Linked DNA regions of Homo sapiens. The protein of the gene in region 1 interacts with the protein of each later gene in a pairwise test. Each region holds a gene or a part of one and is shown in the gene's direction. Other genes may lie near its edges.

Region 1 (7,812 bases):
GTCCTGTATTTTTATTTGTAAATCTGGAAACCCTATGAGTAGTAGTTTGTACAAAAGTAGTGAAAGGCATTACAGATAGAGAAAACAGCATGTGCACACAGCATGAGCCCAGGATGAGAGGCAAGCGAGAAGCCATTGGGTGGGAAAGTGCAAGTACTTCTGGAGACTGGAAACTAGGCTGGTGGGGGGTGCTGGGGAGGTGAAGCTGGAGAGGTCATGGGGGTCAGGGCTGAGTCTTGATACTATCCTGGAGGTTGGGCTTTTTCCTGTGGACAAAGAGTGTGTGAGAATTTTAATCAGAGAAATAGTCCATTTGATATTTTTATTTCTATTTAAAAAGTCATCTTAAAATATGCCTTTTATTTTTAGTTCTCTTCTTTCTAAGAGGTGGTATACAAGTCTTCATTTATTTATATAAAAATTATATTTATAGGCATGAATATATTTATAATATAAATTATAAATTAATTAATGTAGTAATAAATGAACAAAAATTGTCAAGCCCAGTTTGACAGAACCTCGCCTGGAGAGTGGGCAGGTGTGACTGTCTGAGTGGAGGGGCGGGGACGGTGACCTTGGCCTCCCAGTTTGGGGCTCCGCTGAGGGTGTCTTCCTGGCTGCTTACGATAGGAACTGATCCTAGGATGGCCTAGTAAGAAATTACAGGGAGCAGAGTTTCCCTTCAAGGAAGGAAGAACATTCTAGTGGATTGTCTGAACTTGGTGACTATATCCCAAACAAATAAAAGGGATGCTCCGTTAGCTTCTGTCAAGAATGGTGCAGAGGACTGGGTGCGGTGGCTCACCCCTGTAATCCCAACACTCTGGGAGGCTGAGACAGGAGGATTGCTTGGGGCTAGGAGTTCAAAACCAGCCTGGATAACATAGCAAAATCCCATTGCTCAAAAAAAAAAAAAAAAAAAAAAAAAAAAAAAAGCTAGGTGTGGTGGCCTGCATCTGGAGTCCCAGCTACTTGGGAGGCTGAGGTGGCAGGATTGCCTGAGCCCAGGAGGTCAAGGCTGCAGTGAGCCAAGGTCCTGCCACTGCGCTCCAGCCTGGGGAACAGAGTGAGACTCTGTATCAAAAAAAAAAAAAAAAAAAAGATGAAGAGGTAGGGGTGCTTACTCTAAGAAGAGATGAAGAGATGGGGCTGGAATTTGCCTTCAACTCCAAATTTTTAAGATGCTTCCCAGACATTCCCAGACTTCAGTTAGCAGGTCAGGCCAGTTCTTTAAAGAGTTAGAAAGGATCAGGATTACACATCTACAGAGGCAGAATGCAGAAGAAGCTTGTCCAAGTAAGAGCATGACCAGGTTTCAAGGCATCTGACAACGAATACCACTTTGGCCCCTTCAGACTTGCCTGGAAGTCTAAGGATGTGCCTCGAGTGACCCTACATGCTGAGAATTCACACTTCTGAGCTAGCAGGGCAGCCGGGCAGGCATTAATAGCTCTGTTTCACAGATGAGAACACTAAGACCAGAGAGAGGAAGTGCGATTCCCATGAGTCGCCCAGCCAGTTAGGAGCAGAGCTGAGGCTGTAGCCTGTGTCCACTGACTGTGGGCCAGCATGCTTTCCTTGGCATTGCCCCTGACCCACAGATACCCAGCTTCAGGCGGGAGCTCCCTCCCTAGTGCTGCTGGCTGAGGGAGAGCGAGCTGAATGTATCTTTGGAGAGGATGGCAGACATCACTGATGATATGATAGTGGAACACAATGGGAGCTGTGGCTGGGAAGGCTCCCCTCCCAGTTTTTCCAGGAGAAGCCAGGAAAAAGCTCTGCGTGTGGGAAGAGGCCACCTGGGAGGCACCTGGGGGGGCCCTCTGTGACCCTCTGTGGAGGCTGAAGAACTGAGAATGCCTCCTGAAGCTGGTGTTTTGAAGCAACAGAGGACGAACTTTCAGGCTTCATGCATGGGCATCTAGCAGTGTGGGAAAAGCAGAACTTCTGGGAAATGAGAAACATAAGTTAAAGCTGCATTTTGCCTCTGTTTATTTAAGCCATTCAAAAAGGAGGGAGGATATGTCTCCTGGCCCACAGTTCTCATACTCAGGAACCCTCATATCTGGGAGCTCTGTCATGTCAGTTGCATGTTTAAAGGGCCTTTGTTCTAGAACCTTCTGCTGTACACACAGGAGTGCGTGCACACACAAACACACACACACTTGCCATTAGGAAAAGGGGGACTGGATTTTGAAGTGCAAAGAGTTGACAATAAGTAAAAGGACAAAAGTACTGTATGTACCTCTGCAATACAAAGTCTTCAGGCTGTTCTGCCTGGTGCTGTTATGCAGCATGTGAATTTCCCGAGAGGACGGGGGGCGGGTGGTCCCTCTCCCACATCCCAGGAATGGATTAAAGTCTCTCGGTGGGACTGAGGTCTTAGGGTCCTTCCTTTCCAGCTGGGTCTGGGAGGAGTCAGGAGTGCACTGGATTTAGGATTTGGGGTCTTCTCCCATCACTCCCTGTTCCACGGAGAGACAACTGTGTTCCCAGCAGGGGTCAGTAAAGCAGTAGGACCACTAGGGGTGAGTGGGGGAGGTGGTGACTGGAGGTGATCAAAGTCTACTCGGAGTGACCAGACATAGGCGAGGTCTTCCCCTGAATGGATTTGTGAGATTTACTCCTGACTTGGGACTTCCAGGGCAGTCACCTGGACGAATTTCCAGCATTTAACCGTGGACAGACACAAGTCCTCCTGCCATTCGGGAAAACTGAAAACGTGAGTGAGCGGTCAGCTAAGCCTGGGTTCAGAGGTGAGAGGATGTTATCTGCAAACATCCATCTTTGCAGTGAGCAAACAGACGCATTTGGCTTGAGGTGGAGGGCCTGGCCCTAGGAGACAAAAAGACCCCCTACCAAACAGCATTTTTCTCTAAATGCCCCTTGAATTGAGACACAGTTGCCGGGTCTCCTGCGGTCTTATTCTCTGTGAGGAATGTCTTCCTCAGCTCCACAGGCCGGCCTCACCAATTGTCTTGGGATTAACCCTTGGCCATCCCGATCTTGCTCTCTCTTCTCTGTGTTTTCCTTCCAGCCTCCATGTCACCTTTTGAGTGTCAAGGCATCTTCCATTGGCCACGAAATGACAGAGAAGTCATCCATCTGCAGAAGCCTCCTGTGTGCACCGTGGAATCACCGTGTCTGTACGGGCACGAATGCTTTAAGAAAACAGCCCTGCTTCTTCACAAACTCTAGTCATTTCACTTGGAATCTGTCCATCAAGAAATTAGGTTTGCAGAGTCCAAAGCAAGCTCCCTAGAGCTTTACAAACAAGCTGGCGGGCAAGGCAGCGCGCCCTATAGTGTCTCTGTGGAGCGCTAAGATCTGTGACCCCTTTGCCACATGGGGTGTGCGCTCAGACTGGGCTATGAATATATCAGCCTCTCTCCACCCGCACTTAGGGACAGAAGATATGGAGACTCCAGGAACTTCATGAACTATTTGCTGTGGTCTTCTGTCCCGGGATAGTCCGGGTCTCACTCCCAGCTCTCCAGAGCTTAACCCTCCCTCTCAGGGGAATGTTTGAAACCTACGAAGAATTCTCAGGAATTCGAGGTAGAAGGTGGCAGAGAGACTTCTGTTCCTGGGGGCCGAGCTGTTGTGCTGATACCGTCCTCTTGGCGTCTGCCCTAGTGGGGACCCTTGATTTTAACTTGAAGTTCCTGGACTGGGTCTAACCTTAGCATGTGTGCCTGAGTGATGGACTTGGTATTTACACCAGCCACGCTGATAAGTGCACATGTGTTTTTAATGTTTTGGCTTTCCACACCACAAACACACAGATGTGCTGTCGCCCGGGCTAGGACTTGAGTAGGGTTTTTCTATTTAAATATATATTATATATTTAAAAAAGTGTCCTCCCAGAGCTAATACCGTTGCTAGCAGCTCTTCCTGCCGCCACACCGGGCAAAGTCCACCCACTGCCCCAGTGTTGAGGGCCACCATGGGCGGCCCCACCTGGAGAGGTGCTGCTCACAGCAAACAGCTCCAACTGCGCCTTCGCCTCGCCTTCCAGGGAGCCCAGCCAGGCCCACTGGGTATTTACAAGCAGACCTCCCTCGCTTCAGCCTTCCTGAACCCCTGTTAGTTGGGAAACCACCTGTCTGCACCGCAGCTAGAGAACCGAGGAGAGGAGCCGCTAGTCTAAAGGGCTGTTGGTTGAAATTAGGAAGCAGTGTAAAGAAAAAGAAAAAAAAAGTTTGGGAGGCCAAGGCAGGAGCATCACCTGAGGTCAGGAGTTCGAGACCAGCCTGGCTAACATGGTGAAACCCCGTCTCTACTAAAAATACAAAAAATTAGCGGGGGCATGGTGGCACGCGGCTGTAATCCCAGCTACTCGGGAGGCTGAGGCAGGAGAATCGCTTGAACCCGGGAGGCGGAGGTTGCAGTCAGCGGAGATAGCGCCATTGCACTCCAGCTTAGGCAACAAGAGCGAAACTGTCTCAAAAAAAAAAAGTCTTCATAATTTCATGGGTTTGCAAGTATGATCCAGGCTCCCCGCTTCTCTGCAAGCCAATGCGAGTTAATTACAGCGTCCGCCCTGGTCTCTCTCCACCCCACGCCGTGATCCATTCCCCTTCTTTTTCTCCCCTTGTCTCTTTCCTCCTCCCCCTTTTATTTATGTATTTTTGGTTTTGTTTTTTAAGGGGTGTTGAGCCGCGTCTGGTTCTAGTAAACCGAACCCGCTCGCGAGGGAGGCGATTGGCTCCCGCGCCGGTGACGGACGTGGTAACGAGTGCGGCTCGCCCCGCCGGGAGCTGATTGGCTGCGCGGGGCGGCTCCGAGGGCTCGGCCGTAGGAGCCCCGCGCACTCCAGCCCTGCAGCCTCCGGAGTCAGTGCCGCGCGCCCGCCGCCCCGCGCCTTCCTGCTCGCCGCACCTCCGGGAGCCGGGGCGCACCCAGCCCGCAGCGCCGCCTCCCCGCCCGCGCCGCCTCCGACCGCAGGCCGAGGGCCGCCACTGGCCGGGGGGACCGGGCAGCAGCTTGCGGCCGCGGAGCCGGGCAACGCTGGGGACTGCGCCTTTTGTCCCCGGAGGTCCCTGGAAGTTTGCGGCAGGACGCGCGCGGGGAGGCGGCGGAGGCAGCCCCGACGTCGCGGAGAACAGGGCGCAGAGCCGGCATGGGCATCGGGCGCAGCGAGGGGGGCCGCCGCGGGGCAGCCCTGGGCGTGCTGCTGGCGCTGGGCGCGGCGCTTCTGGCCGTGGGCTCGGCCAGCGAGTACGACTACGTGAGCTTCCAGTCGGACATCGGCCCGTACCAGAGCGGGCGCTTCTACACCAAGCCACCTCAGTGCGTGGACATCCCCGCGGACCTGCGGCTGTGCCACAACGTGGGCTACAAGAAGATGGTGCTGCCCAACCTGCTGGAGCACGAGACCATGGCGGAGGTGAAGCAGCAGGCCAGCAGCTGGGTGCCCCTGCTCAACAAGAACTGCCACGCCGGCACCCAGGTCTTCCTCTGCTCGCTCTTCGCGCCCGTCTGCCTGGACCGGCCCATCTACCCGTGTCGCTGGCTCTGCGAGGCCGTGCGCGACTCGTGCGAGCCGGTCATGCAGTTCTTCGGCTTCTACTGGCCCGAGATGCTTAAGTGTGACAAGTTCCCCGAGGGGGACGTCTGCATCGCCATGACGCCGCCCAATGCCACCGAAGCCTCCAAGCCCCAAGGTAAGGCTGCCTCCTCCCACGTGCGCGAGCCGCCCCCTCCATCCCCCGGCCGGAGCTGCAGGAGAACCCGCGCCACCCTACGCCCGCCCGCCGCTGGGTCCCGGTGCTGGGGACTGAGGGCCCGAGGTTGCTCGCATGCTGTGCACGTGATTCCTAAGCGCGTCTGGTCTGTCCCAGGTATCGCTCAGCGCCCCTCGCGACCCAGGTGCACGGCGGGGCTGGCCCGGGAGCGGCAGCTCTGCGCCTTGGCCTCGCAGGGACTCGCTGTGGTCCCCGGAGCCGCTCTTCCTGGGATCCAACTTCGCCTTTCCCATACCTGAAACAAAGCCTTGCGCTTTAAATAACAGGGGAGCTTCCCTCTCCTCTAGGAGGACTCCGAGTCCCTATCGAAGTTTTTAACCTCTGAGACGGGAGGAAAAAACAAAAACCCAAAGCGTAGAAAGTTCAGAAAGGCCGAGAGAATGCTTGGAGCAGCTTTTGTTTATTTTCATAGGTTCGACAAAGATTTAAAAAATAAAACCAAGCCCTTTCCTTCACTGGTCATTCAGTCAAGTAGCCTTGGGATTGCTGCAAAACTGGCTGAGAAAGTTTAGGAACCGTGGGGACTTCTGTTTCTCCACCCCTTCCAGGTACCAGCTCTGCCCTCGGAGGGCTGGGGGTGGAAAGTCTTTTCTCCCTCCCTCTAGCGTACCCCCTGCTTTTCTCATTTACACAAATCCTCAGCTCATTAGAAAGATAAAAATGTAATTAGCTCATTGTTCATCTCCTCCCGGGGAGAGCAGCTCTGCAAAATGCAGACTTTCCTAACAGCCTGAGGGACCGGCCCGAGGTTCCTCTCAAAACCCCCTTATGTTTAAAGAGCAATTCTTGAGGGGGAAGAAAAAAAAATCCTGGGAAGTCAAATAAAATGAAATAGATATAAAGATAAAATATACACATCACAGACCTGACTTCTATAGAAGTAAATTCAACCCAGAATTCTTTAGAAGCGAAGTTTAGGCTCTGAGGTGTGGAGAGGGTCAGGGATTGGGGAGCTGTACCCCAGCTGCGCTTAGCACAGACGCAGGCTTCCTGAGGGCTTTTTGAGGAGGGCCTTTAGGGTGGGGGAGAAAGACTGCCTACACTTAGCTCACCTTAAAGTGTCTTTAACCTCTGTTATTGATGCTAAAAGAGGGGAGTGCAGTCACCTGGCTCCTCAGAGTGAGGATTTGGGCAGGTGGGGGAAAGGGATACCCCAAATTTTAGATGCTTTTGCTTATTCTAGGGAGGGTGGAGATGGGTCCACAGTGACTGTCGTTGGATGGCTGGATGGGAACGGCACTGATTGCCCGCAGTGGCCAGGTCTGGGCACCGCTGCTCTCAGAGTCAACTCTGGTGTTGGGAGTGGAGTGAGGGTAGCGGATGCATCTGCACTTTGTGAGCGAGAACTGAGCAGTTACCTGGAGCAAACAAAGCGCCTTGTGTTCTGTTGGCTTGCACCCATCCCCTGCAGCCTGCGGGAATTTCCTTCTCCCCTTCCTCAGCCAGCGGGGATTAGCCCAGCCCTGCCCTGTGAGGCTGTGCCCAGCCCTGACCTGGAGTCCATTCCCAATGGCTTCCGATGGTCTCTTTCTGGGACCGTCTGCAGACATGAGTGGACACCTTAGGGGGCTCGGCTGCGGAAAAGGTGCTGCAGTCCACAGGGAACATGGGGGGATTGGACGGGTTGCCTGAAGAAGAGAGGAAAGAATCCCTCACCCCAGCCCCCAAAAGGCTGTGATGGGATGGGGAAACCCCATAATCGCTGTCTTCCGGACACCTTTTGCCCCTTGGCTGCAGTTCCACTGGTCGGCGCCCTTCTCAGCCTGGCTTGGAACCGTCCTCACTCACCTCCACTCCTCCCAGCAGCGCTCAGGTAGTCACCCTCCCAAGACAGGTCTTTGAGGAGCAAAGAGAAAAGTGGGGAGAGGGCCGGTCGGGAGTGGGGCTTGGGACTGGTTTTCCCCTCAGTGGTTTTGGTGGGGGGCTCTGCCCTGAGATGGCACACCACCCTCCCCAGGACTGCAATCCCTGGTGTAAGGGAGCCCCACGTGATTTCCTGCGAGGTCCCTGTGGAGGGGAGGGTGGGGCGTGTGTGTGTGTGTGTGTGTGTGTGTAGGTGTGTAGA
Region 2 (7,037 bases), about 62 Mb from region 1:
TTACTTTTTAATTTACCTAGCTTCTTTCCCAAGTAGTTTTGTGCCTGGATATTATCAAGAAGGCTTTTTGTTCTTACCTCTTTTATATGATTGCTAATACTACCAATCTCTTCATTATATAATTTTCCACTTATAACTAACCTTTCTCATAGCCTTTACTAATGAAGTTTTTTTTTTTGCTATAAATCATACTTCAGTAAATTTAAGGATACAAAAGAAGAGAGCCATCAAGCAGTCACAATACCAGCATTAACCTAAGTCTATAGAAGAAAGGAAAGAGAAATGAAAAGGCAAAAATAATGTCACCCTGGCTCAGACTTTTAATCCCTATATGTAATTTCTCAGTGTATACTATTGTGTTTTTCCTACTGCCCCTTTCCTATTTATCCATATACAGTAGTATTCTCTTTTAGTTCCTGTATTTGAATGTCCAAAATCCTATAAGTTGAGAGTTGTAAGTGACCCTAAAGATCATATAGAGCTTCTTAACCTTTTTTATGACATTAACCCCTTCTCAAGATAAGAGAAGTTTTAATATTTAAATAAATAAAATGTGTAGGATTACAAAGAAAACAAATTATATTGAAATATAGCTCAGGTAAAGAACCCCCGAACCCTTCATTATACAGATGAAGAAACTGAAACCCAGAAAAGCTGCGATTTGTCCCTTTGAGCACTCTAATCTGATAGTCTTCTCTGTCTACATGGACCATAATGTCATCTTTAACTGGTTTTTTTTTAGGCCCTTGTCCTGATTGGATAAACAAGATAATATTTCTTATGATTTAGAATGCAATGTGTAAATTTCAGACTTTGCTACTTATTTGCAAACTTCATTTAGATAAAAATTAAACTGGGTGATTGTTTTACCTCTGTTTAGCTCTGTCTCTCTTTTTCCTTCTTACAAGTGCCTTGAATACAAAGTCTTGTTAGACCAAAAATAAAATCTCTGTGGCGCACACCTGTAGTCCCATCTACTCTGGAGGCTGAGGTGGGAGGATCACTTAAGCCCAAGAGTTGGAGGCTGCAGTGAGCTATGATCGTTCCACTGCACTCCAGTCTGGGCAACAGAGTGAGACTTCAACTCAACAAAACAAAATGAAAACAACAAAAACAAAGCAAAAGTTAACTCCCTAATCTTCAGTCTCTCTAGTGGTGCCACAATGATTTTATTATAATTCAAATTTGTGCAGTCCACTTTAGGGTTAAAATCCTTCATCATTTTCCCTAAAGCTGGGGAAAAAAAGACCTGGTTCTAGAGCACTCCAGGCCCTTCATGTGGGACCCTGGCTGCTTGTCCAGTCTCTCATCTTGTACCTTCCCACATTGCACACTCTGCTTCAGCCAACTGACCTATTTGGAGAATTCAAATCCATATTACTGTCCATCACCTCTGTATCTTTACACACACTCTATCCTCTGGTGAGCCGTCTGTCTACCTACCTTTCTTCACCTGCTCAATTCCTTCAGTTCTCAGTTAAAGCAATAACTGTTTTTAGCGAACCCTTCTTTCACCTTTCTCCTGAGCAAATTTAATCACCCCACTCTACACCCTTACAGTACTTATAATGTACAGTTGTTCTTATGCTATTTTACAGTGAATCTACATGTCTCTAGATTGAGAGTTTGTTGAAGGTAGGGATGGTGTTTTTTTTTCATCTGTATCCCTAATACTAAGTACAATGCCTCTGAGCATGGTAGAGGCTACATAAAAGCTAAATAAAGAAAAAGGTAGGATTTTATGTCCCAATAAGGTAGCAAAGGGAATTTTCCCTCCAAATCTTTACATTCCACTTCTATCATCTACAGTGTCCAAGTCAAAGACATACTAATATTTTTAGGTGGTTTACATATCATTCTTTTTCATTCTGTCTGAGCCTAGCTGTAATGAAATATATCAGTTGACATCCTCTATTTTGTTTCCCACATTAGCTCTACACATATTCATTAGAATTTGCTTAAAGAATTTGATTTTTAACCATTTCTAGTTATTTATATGAAGTAAAGGAATTCAACTTTTGATCGGACCGTTGGATTATAAGCTATATGAGTCAGTTTTTTTTTTTTCAAACATTGTACTTTAGTCCTTAAGTGTATATTCCAGTTGAGTACTAAATTATAGCTGCTTGTAACTTGGCTTTTACTAAAAATGTGTTTTATAGCTTCTCTAAAGATCAGATTGGGTTTTACACCTCCAACCCGATTACCTTTAGTTTCTGCTGGTTCCTATTGAATTTCCAGGATTCACTGTGAATTAGTGTTAGGATGAGGGGCTGAAAAATTGCCTGATGGCTATGGCAATGAATTGTACTCTCTTAGTCACTGAGAATTCCGTATAAGTCAAAAGATCTATCTCACTCCTTTTTTGTTCCTAGTTTTCATTTTGTAACAGCTAGCCTGTTTTATAGAATTTAAGCATTTATGGTCATTTTTAATCTGTGATTATATGAGATGGTTTAGAGCAGTGGTTCTTAAACTTTAGTTCATAGACCAGCAGCTTGTGAGCTTGTTGGAAATGCAAGCTCACAGACTCCTATCCCAACTTACTGAATCATGATCTCTGAAGATGGAGCGCAGCTGTGGTTTCACAAGCTGCCCAGGTGTTTCTTTTGAGTGTTAAAGTTCAAGACCCACTGGTTTAGAAGTTTGGATTGCAAATTTTTACTGTAAAAGACCAAATTATTTTGACTTTCCAGACCATACAGTCTCCGTCACAGCTATTCAACTTTGAAATTGTAGCACAGAAGCAGTCAGACAATATGCCAACAAATGAGTGTGGCTGTGTCTCAATAAAACTTTATTTACAAAAACAGGCAGTGGGCTATATTTGGCCCAGGGGCTACAGTTTGCTGAACCTTGGTTTAAAGTACTTGAAAATGTTTTAAGGATAGTATAGAATGAAATAAGTGGACATTATTGTGCATTCTTATGTTAATACATTAACTGAGTTATTTGTTACTTACTTTCCACATAAATTTTTTAAAGTAAAATTTATCACAAACCAAAAGGATCTGACTGGGACATCTTGGTTCTTTAGTTTTGTTTCAGAGATTGCTTAAAATGAGGGACTTCAGTTTTTTCCTAATTTTATTATGTGAACCTGAAATCATTTGTATTACAAAGAGTTAATTTACAATTCTGCATAGTAACGGGGCTTTGTAATGAAAAGGATGTACAGTCTAACTCTCCCAAGTGGAAAAACAAATGGCTACTGGTTTTCCATTGTGTTCCTTTTGTTTCATATCTAGAGCATTGTGAGATTGAGGTCCCTTGAGAGACTGATTTCATCCAGAAAGAGCTGAGACTGATCTAGGGAAAATGGAAACAGGAATGTTGTATTTTTCTTTTTCAATTGCCTTCATTGAGGTCTAGGCAAAAGCCAGGTCACGTATTGTGTTTGGAGCAGCAAGTGGTCATTCCCTTTTTAAACAGTCTAAAGGGAAGTGGGCCAAAAGAAAAAAAACAACTTTCCTTTCCACCTGTTAATATGTGCTGTTAGAATGTCTCTATTCAGTTAAAAATAAATGGAGAAAAACTGGATAAACAGACTTTTAAGGAAAATATCTATTTCTGTTGTATAGTGGCTTTTAAGCATTTTTATTTTCCTGCTTTTAGAAGAGTCCAGTCCCTTCCTGCTTTCACCTTTCTTCCATATTCTCTACCCTTGTATGTCCATACACAAATAAAGAAAATGTTTAGTGAGATTAACCTGTTTGTTTTTCAGGAAAGACTATCTGAAAATAACTGTAGCTATTCTGAAAGTAAGACATTAATCATATAAAATGAAATAAATAGTGAGAAGTGTTCCAAGCCAGTTGCGTGTATAATGACTACTGTTGTGTTTTAAAGGTAGAAACCTTCCTTCGTGATGTTGCATTGCAGTAGCAGGGAAAGTCCCTTGACTCCTTCTTTTGAAACTGCAGAATAAGGGCAGGCCTGTATGTGAAGAGAAAGGATATTTCTCCTGGGAGGCTCTGCTGATAAGCACAAGGTTCCTAGTCCATTCCTTAGTATTCCATGGGAAGACTGTTGTGATTATTTCCTTTCCCCAAGAATGTGGCATGTAAATAATGAAGCTTTATTACTCTAGGTTATATATTTGTCATGTGTTCATTCATATTTATTGAATATGTACCTGAATATGTAGCTCTCCCAGAATTACAGTTTTTCAAGTTCTAAGGTTTACATTAAAAAAGTAATTTATTCTAGACACATTCCTTTGTAGTATCAATCAGTTAATATGTACATTTGTCTAATTTCCAAAGGTACTCTCTTCTGGAGAAATGATTTAAATTTTCTAATGGTCCCTCACAAGAAATAGTTTAAAAATAACAAGTTTTCCATTATGGAAATAATGTAAATTCCTGCTTTTTGTTCTCTTGTATTCCAGGCTCCACTTTACATTTTTTAAAGAAGCTGACTTGCCTGAGATTGATCACATTCGTGAAAATAGGTAGCAAAATTTGCACCACTTTCCTATACAGTAGTCCATTGACATTCTCAAAGAATTTACTCAAGACTTTTGTAACCACTTAAACAGTATTTGCCCAGTGAAGTCTAACTGAAAACATTTAAGGGCCCCTTTAGACTTTAGTGAGCCTGTTGTTTTGCTAAGGTTCATCACTTTTTTTTTTTTTTTTTTTTTTTTTTTGAGACAGAGTCTCGTTCTGTCACCCAGGCTGGAGTGCAGTGGCGCCATCTCGCTCACTGCAAGCTCCCTCTCCTGGGTTCACGCCATTCTCCTGCCTCAGCCTCCCGAGTAGCTGGGACTACAGGCGCCCGTCACCAAGCCCGGCTAATTTTTTTGTATTTTTTTAGTAGAGACGGGGTTTAACCATGTTAGCCAGGATGGTCTCAATCTCCTGACCTCAAGATCCACCCACCTCGGCCTCCCAAAGTGCTGGGATTACAGGCGTGAGCCACCGCGCCTGGCCCCAGGTTCATCACTTTTTTTAATGACATTTTAAATTTCCTTCACTCAGTTTTAATCACCATCACTGTAAATCGACTTTGTTTTTGGTGCCAATTTAGAGCAAGAAATATAGCTTTTCTCACTGCATGGGAGTTACTGTGTATGTCACCATGAGTAGAAAGCACAAATCCTGAGCTTAGGATCAGAGGCTTTGGAGTCACTTGGTCTTGTTCACTGGTGATGTGGCTTGCTTCCATGTACCAGTGGGATTCTGATTCATGCTTCAGAAAAGTGACAAACGTTTATGTATCCCATATTTTCAGTACTCAGGGAAGCAAGGCACTGCCAAGATACTGCCACAGGACCACTCTGCTTAGGTTATGCTTTATATATTTTTAAGAAACCAAATAGTTCCTTCTTTTGACCCCTCTCAATTAAAATTCTAGCCCAGACTTTCCCTTCAGGATCTTACAGTGCCACCAACCCCAGGCCCATATTATGGTTCCTTTCATTATCATATTATTATAGCATCAGGAGCTAGCTGGTCCTTTCCCTGTATATTTCACTGAGACTAGCTGGTGTTTATTCATTCAACAAATATTTGAATGCCTAAATAAATAAATATTTGAAGCACTGTTCAGATACTTGACATACAGTAATGCACAAACAGACCTATATGCCCTCACAGAATTTATATTCTAGTGGAGGGAATGTAAAACAACCTATCTGTTTTTGTCATTGTACTTTCAGTTCTACTTTTTGACAAAGGCTTATTTTCTTAGATTACTTTTTTGCCCTTGTTTACTCATTTCCAAAAAATACTTTTAGACTTATTTTAATATTATTTTGCCCTGGTCATTCTTTCATTGATTTTATATAGCTCTTAATTCTTTTAACTCTGAAGAAGGAGCCTCCTTTCCTTGTGTTCTAAGGTGTGTTTTTTTTTTTTCATGTCCTTTCCATCTTAGGGTACCCAGACTGGTTAAGCAGAAAAGGAATTGATTATAAGAGTAGCAGGTAGCTCATAGAATCGCCAGGTGGGCTAGAATTCAAGCTCAGGCTGTAAGGAAACATGCTACAGCTAAGATGCTGGCACAGGTATGGTCTACTTGGGAACTTATAAGCAAGGGATTTCAGTGAGGACAACTCTTGGATGGAAATTATCCAGGATACTTCTTAACCTGACACTAGATAGTTGGTTGATCCTGCTGGAACATGATACCATATTGAGGGCTTAAGGTTGGTTACTGCTCTGCTTCTGGCAAATGAACTACTCAGCAGTAGCCAGATCACCCCAAGAAGGAAAAGTCTATGCTATTGGATCTGGGCACTCTTCTGCCACCATGGCCGTTTTGTTCCTGAGCCTGTTAAGCCTATACTGGTGCAACTAGAGAAAAGGCTGATTGACATCCACAGAGTAGATTATTTAGTCTACACATTTAAGAGCCTCCTCTGTCTTGGGGCCTTTGGGTTTGCATTCACATGCAAAAAAAATTTTTTTTGAGATTATAGGCCCATTTTGGAGAAGTCCAGTCACACACTGCTTTTCCGGACTCCTAATACCAGTTCTGTAGAACTCTTCCAAGCTCTTGTTGCTTGCAAGTCCCTATCTTGTTGTACCATTAGCTATAGCCCATGAATCAATATAACTTCTTACCTGAGACCATCTTTCTACTGATAACATAGACAGTGATTGAAGTTCTGCCTGCTAGGGCCACCTCTGAATGGAGTTATAATCCTATAGTAGCTCACTTACAATAGCTGGGGCCAGCTATTGTAAGCCAGGCTGTAATTGTTTCTTCATGAGTCATTTGGTGAGAGGGAACTCTGCTTGAAGACGTAGGTGTGTTTTAAGGAAAGAATTATAATATGGCAGAAGCAGGCATTCTGAGAATGCAAGCAATATGCTACTTTCCCGTATCTTTGAGATCTATCCAGCCACTTGAAGATGGAATGCAGTTGGTCCCTGACATCATGAGTAGGTGAGTTCAGTAACACTCAATTCATGAGAGGTAACTTGACCTGATGATCTCTAGATGTTCTCTCCTGTTTAGTTTCTATGAGGAACTAGTAGCAAAAGCCAAGGTCCCTTTTAATTATGTAGGGTTAATCTCCTCATCTGCAC

The links.
Region 2: the proteins of SFRP1 (region 1) and FZD6 interact in binary tests that used the Homo sapiens proteins (3 or more experiments, as listed by UniProt).

Annotation. Positions count from the first base shown.
Region 1 is NC_000008.11:41,306,470-41,314,281, reverse strand, and holds the start of SFRP1 (secreted frizzled-related protein 1 precursor), read left to right. Parts: upstream 1-4,808; 5' UTR 4,809-5,122; coding exon 5,123-5,666; intron 5,667-7,812. UniProt on the Homo sapiens protein: Soluble frizzled-related proteins (sFRPS) function as modulators of Wnt signaling through direct interaction with Wnts. They have a role in regulating cell growth and differentiation in specific cell types. SFRP1 decreases intracellular beta-catenin levels.
Region 2 is NC_000008.11:103,301,871-103,308,907, forward strand, and holds part of FZD6 (frizzled-6 isoform a precursor), read left to right. Parts: intron 1-7,037. UniProt on the Homo sapiens protein: Receptor for Wnt proteins.